Homo sapiens: one gene and its partner. The protein of the gene in region 1 purifies or fractionates together with the protein of each later gene. This does not show direct contact. Each region holds a gene or a part of one and is shown on either strand. Other genes may lie near its edges. The genes, in order: BRIP1 and CIAO3.

Evidence for each region.
Region 2: the proteins of BRIP1 (region 1) and CIAO3 purify together in Homo sapiens (affinity purification with western blotting, with the first as the bait; one study listed by BioGRID). This does not show direct contact.

What each region holds. Positions count from the first base shown.
Region 1 is NC_000017.11:61,797,214-61,801,029, reverse strand, and holds part of BRIP1 (Fanconi anemia group J protein), read left to right. Parts: intron 1-1,730; coding exon 1,731-1,930; intron 1,931-3,816. UniProt on the Homo sapiens protein: DNA-dependent ATPase and 5'-3' DNA helicase required for the maintenance of chromosomal stability. Acts late in the Fanconi anemia pathway, after FANCD2 ubiquitination.
Region 2 is NC_000016.10:738,611-742,526, reverse strand, and holds the start of CIAO3 (cytosolic iron-sulfur assembly component 3), read left to right. Parts: upstream 1-1,529; 5' UTR 1,530-1,541; coding exon 1,542-1,607; intron 1,608-2,423; exon of another isoform or gene 2,424-2,505; intron 2,506-2,788; coding exon 2,789-2,884; intron 2,885-3,916.

The DNA of each region.
Region 1 (3,816 bases):
GTGGGATTACAGCAGGATTTCTCTTTGCATTTATGAATATTCAAAAAGAATTATTTAGAAACATTTCTCTGAAAAAACTATGTTTTGAAGAACTTATGTGGGGGAATAAAATTATGCCTTGTGAGCTTTGAGAAGTGAACTTCAGATAATGGCATTTGTGTTTGTTTGCCTGGTTCTTTTTAGAGACATGCAATTGTTAACAGCATAAGACAAAAAGTGAATAATTTGGCATAGTCAATTGTTATTCCTGTCTTCAGATCTGACTGCACAATTCATCTCAGCTTTCTATTTCTTTAAGATCCAAATTAATAGGCATTATGTTTACTACCCCTTCTATCCTACCTCTTATTTGGTTATCTCTTAACTAGATCTCTTCCTTCTGAGACACTGTGCATATCAATGCCAGGTCAGTTTTCCAAATATTGCTTTTATTACATCCTTTTATCTGCCTAAAAATCTATTGCTTCCTTTGCTCATGAGATAAAGTTCATATTTCTTAAGCTTACACTCAAGATGCTCAATAGTCTGACCTGGATCTGCCCAATTTGAATCCTTCAAAAATTACCTCATACTCCCTTGAGGATACCTTGTTCTTTACTCTATCTTTGCTTTTGATGACACCTCTTTGGAATGCCCTGTCCACTCTTTGTCTGTCCAAATCCAAATCCTACTTATCTTTTAAACCCCAATATATTTCCTACTCTTCCATGGTTTTTTCTCAACTTTTCAGCTGTCTGTGTATTCTTACTTCCTCAAAATAACTCATTGACAATTGCTTTGTGACAGTTCCTTGTATTAGTCAGTACTCTTTCTATTGCAAGTGACACAAACCTACCCTAAAAAATGCTTAAGAAAAAATACTTGATTCTCTTTATTGTGATGGCTTTATTCTCAGGCAAGTTCTCACTCTTGCTTATGGAACAAAGATAACCATAAGCAGCTAGCTCACCTGGAGAAAAGAGCATGGCCACATATTAGTCCCTCCAAATTACTCTGGTTGGCCTACCGTGGATCACATGTCTGTTCCTGAACCTGAACCAGTCACTGTGACCACAGAAGGATGGAATACTCTATTTAACTGACAATCCTGGGCCTTACCCCCATTGTGAAAGTGGTGATGTCCTTTGATTCACAGGTTAATAGTCCTGCCAGCATCACATGGGAGTTGGAGAAGAACAATTCTCCAACTCCCATGTTGGAGAAGGATTGCAGGACAGATTAAAACAAAACATATATATTATGTTAGTATTTTAAGAGTCATTTTAATCTTGTATTGTTATTTTACTTTTAAAGGTTTTATGCTTTTAATCTTGTATTGTTATTTTACTTTTAAAGGTCTTATGCTTTTAATCTTATATTGTTATTTTATTTTTAAAGGTCTTATAATTAGTTTGTAAAATTATGTTGGAAACACTTTCATAGTGGGATTTTATACCTTTCTGTGTAGCCTGTGGTACCTTGATCCAGACTCACTGACATATTTTTGTTGCTGTCGATAGGTTTGCAAAGTATTTTAAGAGTAAAAAAATGGCAAACACAATAATGTAGAGCTGATATTTGGTTGGCCATAGTGCTTCAGAAGTTTTATTTAAGACCTAGAATCTCTGTTGCTTATGTAATTGCATTTGCAATATTGGCCTATAGTGTGAATTTTAAAATGAAATATCTTGCCTGCTGTTGTTAAATCTATTTTGCCAAATGTTTTACAAGAAAATTCTTTTATCTTATAGATGGATTTAAATCTGAAAGAACAGGTTGTCATTTTAGATGAAGCTCATAACATCGAGGACTGTGCTCGGGAATCAGCAAGTTACAGTGTAACAGAAGTTCAGCTTCGGTTTGCTCGGGATGAACTAGATAGTATGGTCAACAATAATATAAGGAAGAAAGATCATGAACCCCTACGAGCTGTGTGCTGTAGCCTCATTAAGTAAGAAGATTTGTCTATTAGTGTATTTGTGCTGCCTTTATATGAAAAATATGTTTGATTATGCCAGAGTATTTAAAGTTAGTAAACTTTGGTTAACTAGGCTTCTTGGGAAATGAATTGTTCCTTGCCAGTTAAGCTTTAAAAACAAGGCTAGTCCAACCTTTTGTCTTGTTCACAAGAATATAATGAACATAAGTGATTTTTAAAAATGAATAATTGTGAATCTTATTCCTAATTTGGCAGGATAACATAATAGCCCCGAAGGATGTGTCTAGGATATTGAACCAGAAACTAAACGTGCTTTTAATTAATATATTTTAAAATTCTGGATCATGGCTTTAATTTATTGCTTTATTCTCCAATTTAAATAGGATTCTAGTTTCATGGGTTTTAATTAATCAAGATTTCAGTACTCTAAAATAATATATTTAGTACTAGCTTTATGACAATTTACACTAATTTTTCTTTTATTAGACATTAAGTTGTTGATCTAGAATCTTGTTACCATAGAAAAAAACTTCCCAACTCTGAATCCCATTTCATTTATTGTAGCATTTTTCTGTTTCCTTCACATTTACACTTTAAAAAAATTTGAATGTTACACAGTCACATGGTTTGAAGACAAAATGTATACAAATTTGTATAGTAAAAACCTCCTTCCAGTTCCATCCCTGATCTGTTTAATGTCTGTGTTCTCCTAAACAAGTTTATCATTCAATGCATATTACTCATTTATGAACCAATATTAGATATATTTTCTTGTCCCTCACTATTTTCCAAATGATGGCATAGTATACATACATTTTTCTGCAACTTGCTTTTTTCAATTCCCAGTGTATTTTGGAGACCTTTCCATGTTAAGACCTAGAAAGCTTTCTCAGTTTAAAAAAAAAATAGATATCTAGAATTCCATTAGATAGATATGCAATAGTTTATTTAACCAGCCTCTGATTAATAGAGGAGGTTGTTTCTAGTTTTTTGCTCTTAAACTGCTATAATGAATAACTTTGAACATACATAATTTCATTTGTATGCAAATATATCTATAGGAATCTTTTTAGAAGTGGAATTGTTGGGTGAAAGCATAGACATATTTGTAATTTCAATAGATATAGCTAACATTTACACAATAGGTGGATGACAGGGGGGCTAATGTATGCTTCTACCAGCAATGTATAAGAGTATGGAAATTGTTTTCTTCTAGCCTGCTAGGTGAAAAGTGGTATCCCAATGTAGTTTTAATATTCATTTTCCTTAATATGCATGAAATTAAGCATCTTTAAAGGCCATTTATATTTCCTTTTGTGTCAACTGCCTGTTGACATCTCTGTCCTTTTTTTGTTCTTATTGTGGTTCTTTTTCTTAATGATTTATAGAACCCCATTCATATATTAGGGAATTAAAATCTTTGCCTGCAATAAGAGTTGTAAATACTTTCCACCCCATTTTGCCATTTGTGTCTTTTCTGGTGGTGTTTTGCCATGCAGATTTTTGTGGTTTTTATTTTACAGCATAACTTGTTGAAAGAGTTGTCTGTAGTTGCTAATTCTATTTTCTCACTTGACATTCTTCCCTCATCGATCTTAGCAGTGTTGCTCTCTGGACAATTCTACGCAAATTGTTTTGATCAAGATCACTAGTGATCTCTATATTGCCAAATACAGAGGTTATTGTTTCTTTTATCTCAGCCAGTCAGTGGTGTTGGGTAGTTGATGACTACCTCTTTGAAAAGCATTTTTGTCTTAGCTTCTGTGACATCTCTGATTTTCCTCCTTCTCACAGTCCATTTTTTTTTATCATTTCTTTTGATAATTCTTATTCTTTTTGATATCTAAATGTTGGGGTGCCTCAGGACTTACTTGGTACTGGGACCTAGTTTCTTCTGT
Region 2 (3,916 bases), on another chromosome or scaffold:
GAAAGCTCCTCCGTGCAGCAGCAGAAGAAAGTCCTGTCTGGCCGAGAGGAGCAGCTGCAGGTGATGGAGAAGGCCACACAGGCTGGTGGCCCAAACCCCACAGGCAGGTGCAGGAGTGCCCAGGCCGCATCCAGGTGGGGACATGTGGTCAGAATCAGGGCCTAGAACCCTGGGGAGGGTGCGGCGCAGGCTGGGACCTAGGATGTTGCCACTGTGAGATCTCCATGGGCTGAGCCTGCTTGGGCCGGAAAGATGCCAGCCTCGATCCAGGAGTTTCCTGAAAAGTCCCCATAAAACTGGCCATTAGACATGTAACTGGCCATATGATGCCAGATATACATGTAACTGGCCAGGCGCGGTGGCTCATGCCCGTAATCCCAGCGCTTTGGGAGGCTGAGGTGGGTGGATCACTAGGTAAGGAGTTCAAGACCAGCCTGGCCAACATGGTGAAACCCAGTCTCTAATTAAAACTACAAACATTAGCCGGATGCAATGGCAGGTGACTGTAATCCCAGCTACTCGGGAAGCTGAGGCAGGAGAATTGCTTGAACCCAGGCGGCAGAGGTTGCAGTGAGCCGAGATCGCGCCACTGCACTCCAGCCTGGGCAACAGAGTGAGACTCTGTCTCAAAAAAGAAAAAAAAAAAAGTGAGTCGGGGTCGGGCGCGGTGGCTCACGCCTGTAATCCCAGCACTTTGGGAAGCTGAGGCGGGCAGATCACGAGGTCAGGAGTTCGAGACCATCCTGGCTAACACGGTGAAACCCCGTCTCTACTAAAAATACAAAAAATTAGCCGGGCGTGGTGGTGGGCGCCTGTAGTCCCAGCTACTCGGGAGGCTGAGGCAGGAGAATCGCTTGAACCCAGGAGGTAGAGCTTGCAGTGAGCCGAGATCGCGCCATTGCACTCCAGCCTGGACGACAGAGCGAGACTCTGTCTCAAAAAAAGAAAAAAACGAAAAGCGAGTCGGCCCACAGGGTCCTGTTTCAGGGTCTCCCAGGGGCATGGACTTTTCCAGACTGGTCTCCAAGATAACAGAAAAAGGGGCTGGAGGCCCTGGGAGCGGCTCCCCAGGAAGGGGAGACCTCGTGCCTATCCATGCTTTCTTCCCTGCCTGAATTCCCCAACACGAGCTGAGCGCCTCCTGTGTGCCAGGCGCGTTCCGGGTTCTTGGGTTGCATCCGGGAGCACCTGGTCCGCAGGTACGCAGAGGATGAGGAAATGGACGGAGCCAGATCCCCTCCGCTTCCTTGTGAAGGCGGAGAGACTCCGGGGCCGGAGCTGCGGCGCTGGCCCGACCAACCCCTGCGCCCCCTGCACCCCAACCCGGGGCCTGGGGCGCGCGGGAGGTGGACGAAGCGGTAGGTCCCGGGTTCCCGCGAGGTGGGCGGGGAGCCGCAGCGCCGGGGCTCGTCAGCAGAGGGCGCCGGCCCCGGGACGAGGTGCGCATGCGTCCTGGGGGCGCTTTCCGGCAGCGTGGCGGAACCAGCCACTTCGTTTCGCGCCGTTTAGCGACACCTGCGCGCGGCGGCAGTGCGGCCGTCATGGCGTCGCCCTTCAGCGGGGCGCTGCAGCTGACGGACCTGGATGACTTCATCGGGCCGTCTCAGGTGGGCCGGCCTGGGCGGGCGGGGTCGAGGCTGCGCTCGGTGCCCTGTCGCGCGGAGGGAAATTGCTCTGCGCCCCACTTCCTCCCCTGAGGAATGAGATCCGAATCCCGGGAGCCCGGTCTGGGCCGTCAGGGACTCTATCGACCCGGGCGCGGGGCCTCAGACACTGAGGCCCGCTTCTTACCAACAAGGAAACTGAGGCCAGGGAGGGCGGCGCCCCCCAACCCGCTCCTGTGCCCCATGGTGTCCGGGCGGGCTGCGTGGGAGGGTCCCGTGGTCGCGGGCTCGCGCCGGCCTGCCCAACCCAGAGGAGGCAGCAGAGGCGGCTCCCACACATCCCTAACCCTAACCCGACCCCTGGGTCGCAGCTGGAGGGCGGCGGGGCCCGGGCCGGGGCCTCTTCCCCTTCCCCTGCGCAGGACGCCTTGTCAGGCCTCAGGACCCCCAAGCCACAGCCTTTGCATCTGCATAAACGGGTGCGGTGGGGACCCCACCTCATTTGAGGGCAGTAGGGGCGGCCCGCTAGACGCCCCGCAGTGGCTCCTCAGTAGAGCTGTCCTTAACGTCGCCCTGGTGGGCCGGACAGCTACCCTTGAACCCGGGAGGCTGCAGGCGCCCTTTTCTGGGTGCACCTGCCTGTCCATGTCCAACAGCCCCGCGGGGCCAGAGCTGAGCAGGGCGAGAGGCGGGCTGCTGGGAGCGCTTCCGGCAGGGATGAGCTGGGAGGCGGCTTTCTGGGCTGCCAGGGTTCTCAAGGAGAAGAGAGAGAAATCCACTTGTTTCCCGGGCACTGAGCAGGAGGTGGTCTCCAAACAGATCCAAGCACACGTCCTCTCGATGGGCAGTGCAACTCTGGTCTCTGTGGTGGTCACGCCCCCTGTTCACGTGAAGGGTGAAGGTCAGTGTTGGTGGTGTCTCCGCAGGTGGGTAGTTTGCAGGCGCTGTTAGCACTGGCCTTCCTGCACACTGGGAACTTCAGTGCCGCAGGATGTTGGGAACCCGATCCCTGGGTGAGAGCAGTGGGGCAGGAAGAAGACGGTGGGACCAGCCTCAGTCCCTGAGTGCATGGCTCCTGGCAGAGCCTTCAGGCTGTGCGGCTGGGCAGCCATCCTTGAGGCCTGGCCTCCCAGGGAACCTCCGCCCACTCACAGGGGCTGATTTGGGGTCTCTTCCTGCTCTAGGAGTGCATCAAGCCTGTCAAAGTGGAAAAAAGGGCGGGAAGTGGCGTGGCCAAGATTCGCATTGAAGATGACGGGAGCTACTTCCAAATTAACCAAGTAAGGCACAGGAGGCTGCTCCACCATCTCTCCTGCCCGGCTGATCCGAAACACTTTTCTCTGCTTCCTCCCGTCACAGAGCGGTGACCCCGAGACACTCCAGGTCTCACCAGTCTTTTCCCACTGGTCGAATTCACCTGCCATCTGGGAGGCTGGGGGTCAGGGTGCCTGGGGCAGGTGAATGAGCAGCACCCAGGCCAAACAGCTTGATCTGCTCAGCAGAGGGGCTATTTGCAGAGATGGTGGATCCTGTCTGCGTCTGCCTGTTCCCCCTAGTTCTAACCATGTAAGATTTTCTAATTCAGACCCCTCGTTCTTTTGTTTGTTTGTTTGTTTGTTTGTTTGATACAGAGTCTCCCTCGATGGCCCAGGCTGGAGTGCAGTGGCATGATCTCGGCTCACTGCAAGCTCTGCCTCCCAGGTTCACACCATTCTCCTGCCTCAGCCTCCCGAGTAGCTGGGACTACAGGCGGCCACCACCACGCCCAGCTAATGTTTTTTGTATTTTTAGTAGAGACGGGGTTTCACCGTGTTAGCCAGGATGGTCTCAATCTCCTGACCTCGTGATCCACCCGCCTTGGCCTCCCAAAGTGCTGGGATTACAGGCGTGAGCCACCGCGCCCAGCCCAGACCCCTCATTCTTAAAGAATAGTACTTCCTCTCTAAGTGATAAGATCCTGATGAAACTGTTAAAATTCAGGCTGGGCGCGGTGGCTCACGCTTGTAATCCCAGCACTTTGGGAGGCCAGGGTAGGGGGGGCGGATCACCTGAGGTCAGGAGTTCGAGACCAGCCTGGCCAACCCCCATCTGTACTAAAAATACAAAAATTAGTTGGGTGTCGTGGCGCATGCCTGTAATCCCAGCTACTCAAGAGGGTGAGGCAGGAGAATCACTTGAACCTGGGAGATAGGGACTGCAGTGAACCAAGATTGCTCCACTGCACTCCAGCCTGAGAGACAGAGACTCCATCTCAAAAAAATAAAGAAACTGGGCCTGGCGCGGTGGCTCAGGCCTGTAATCCCAGCACTTTG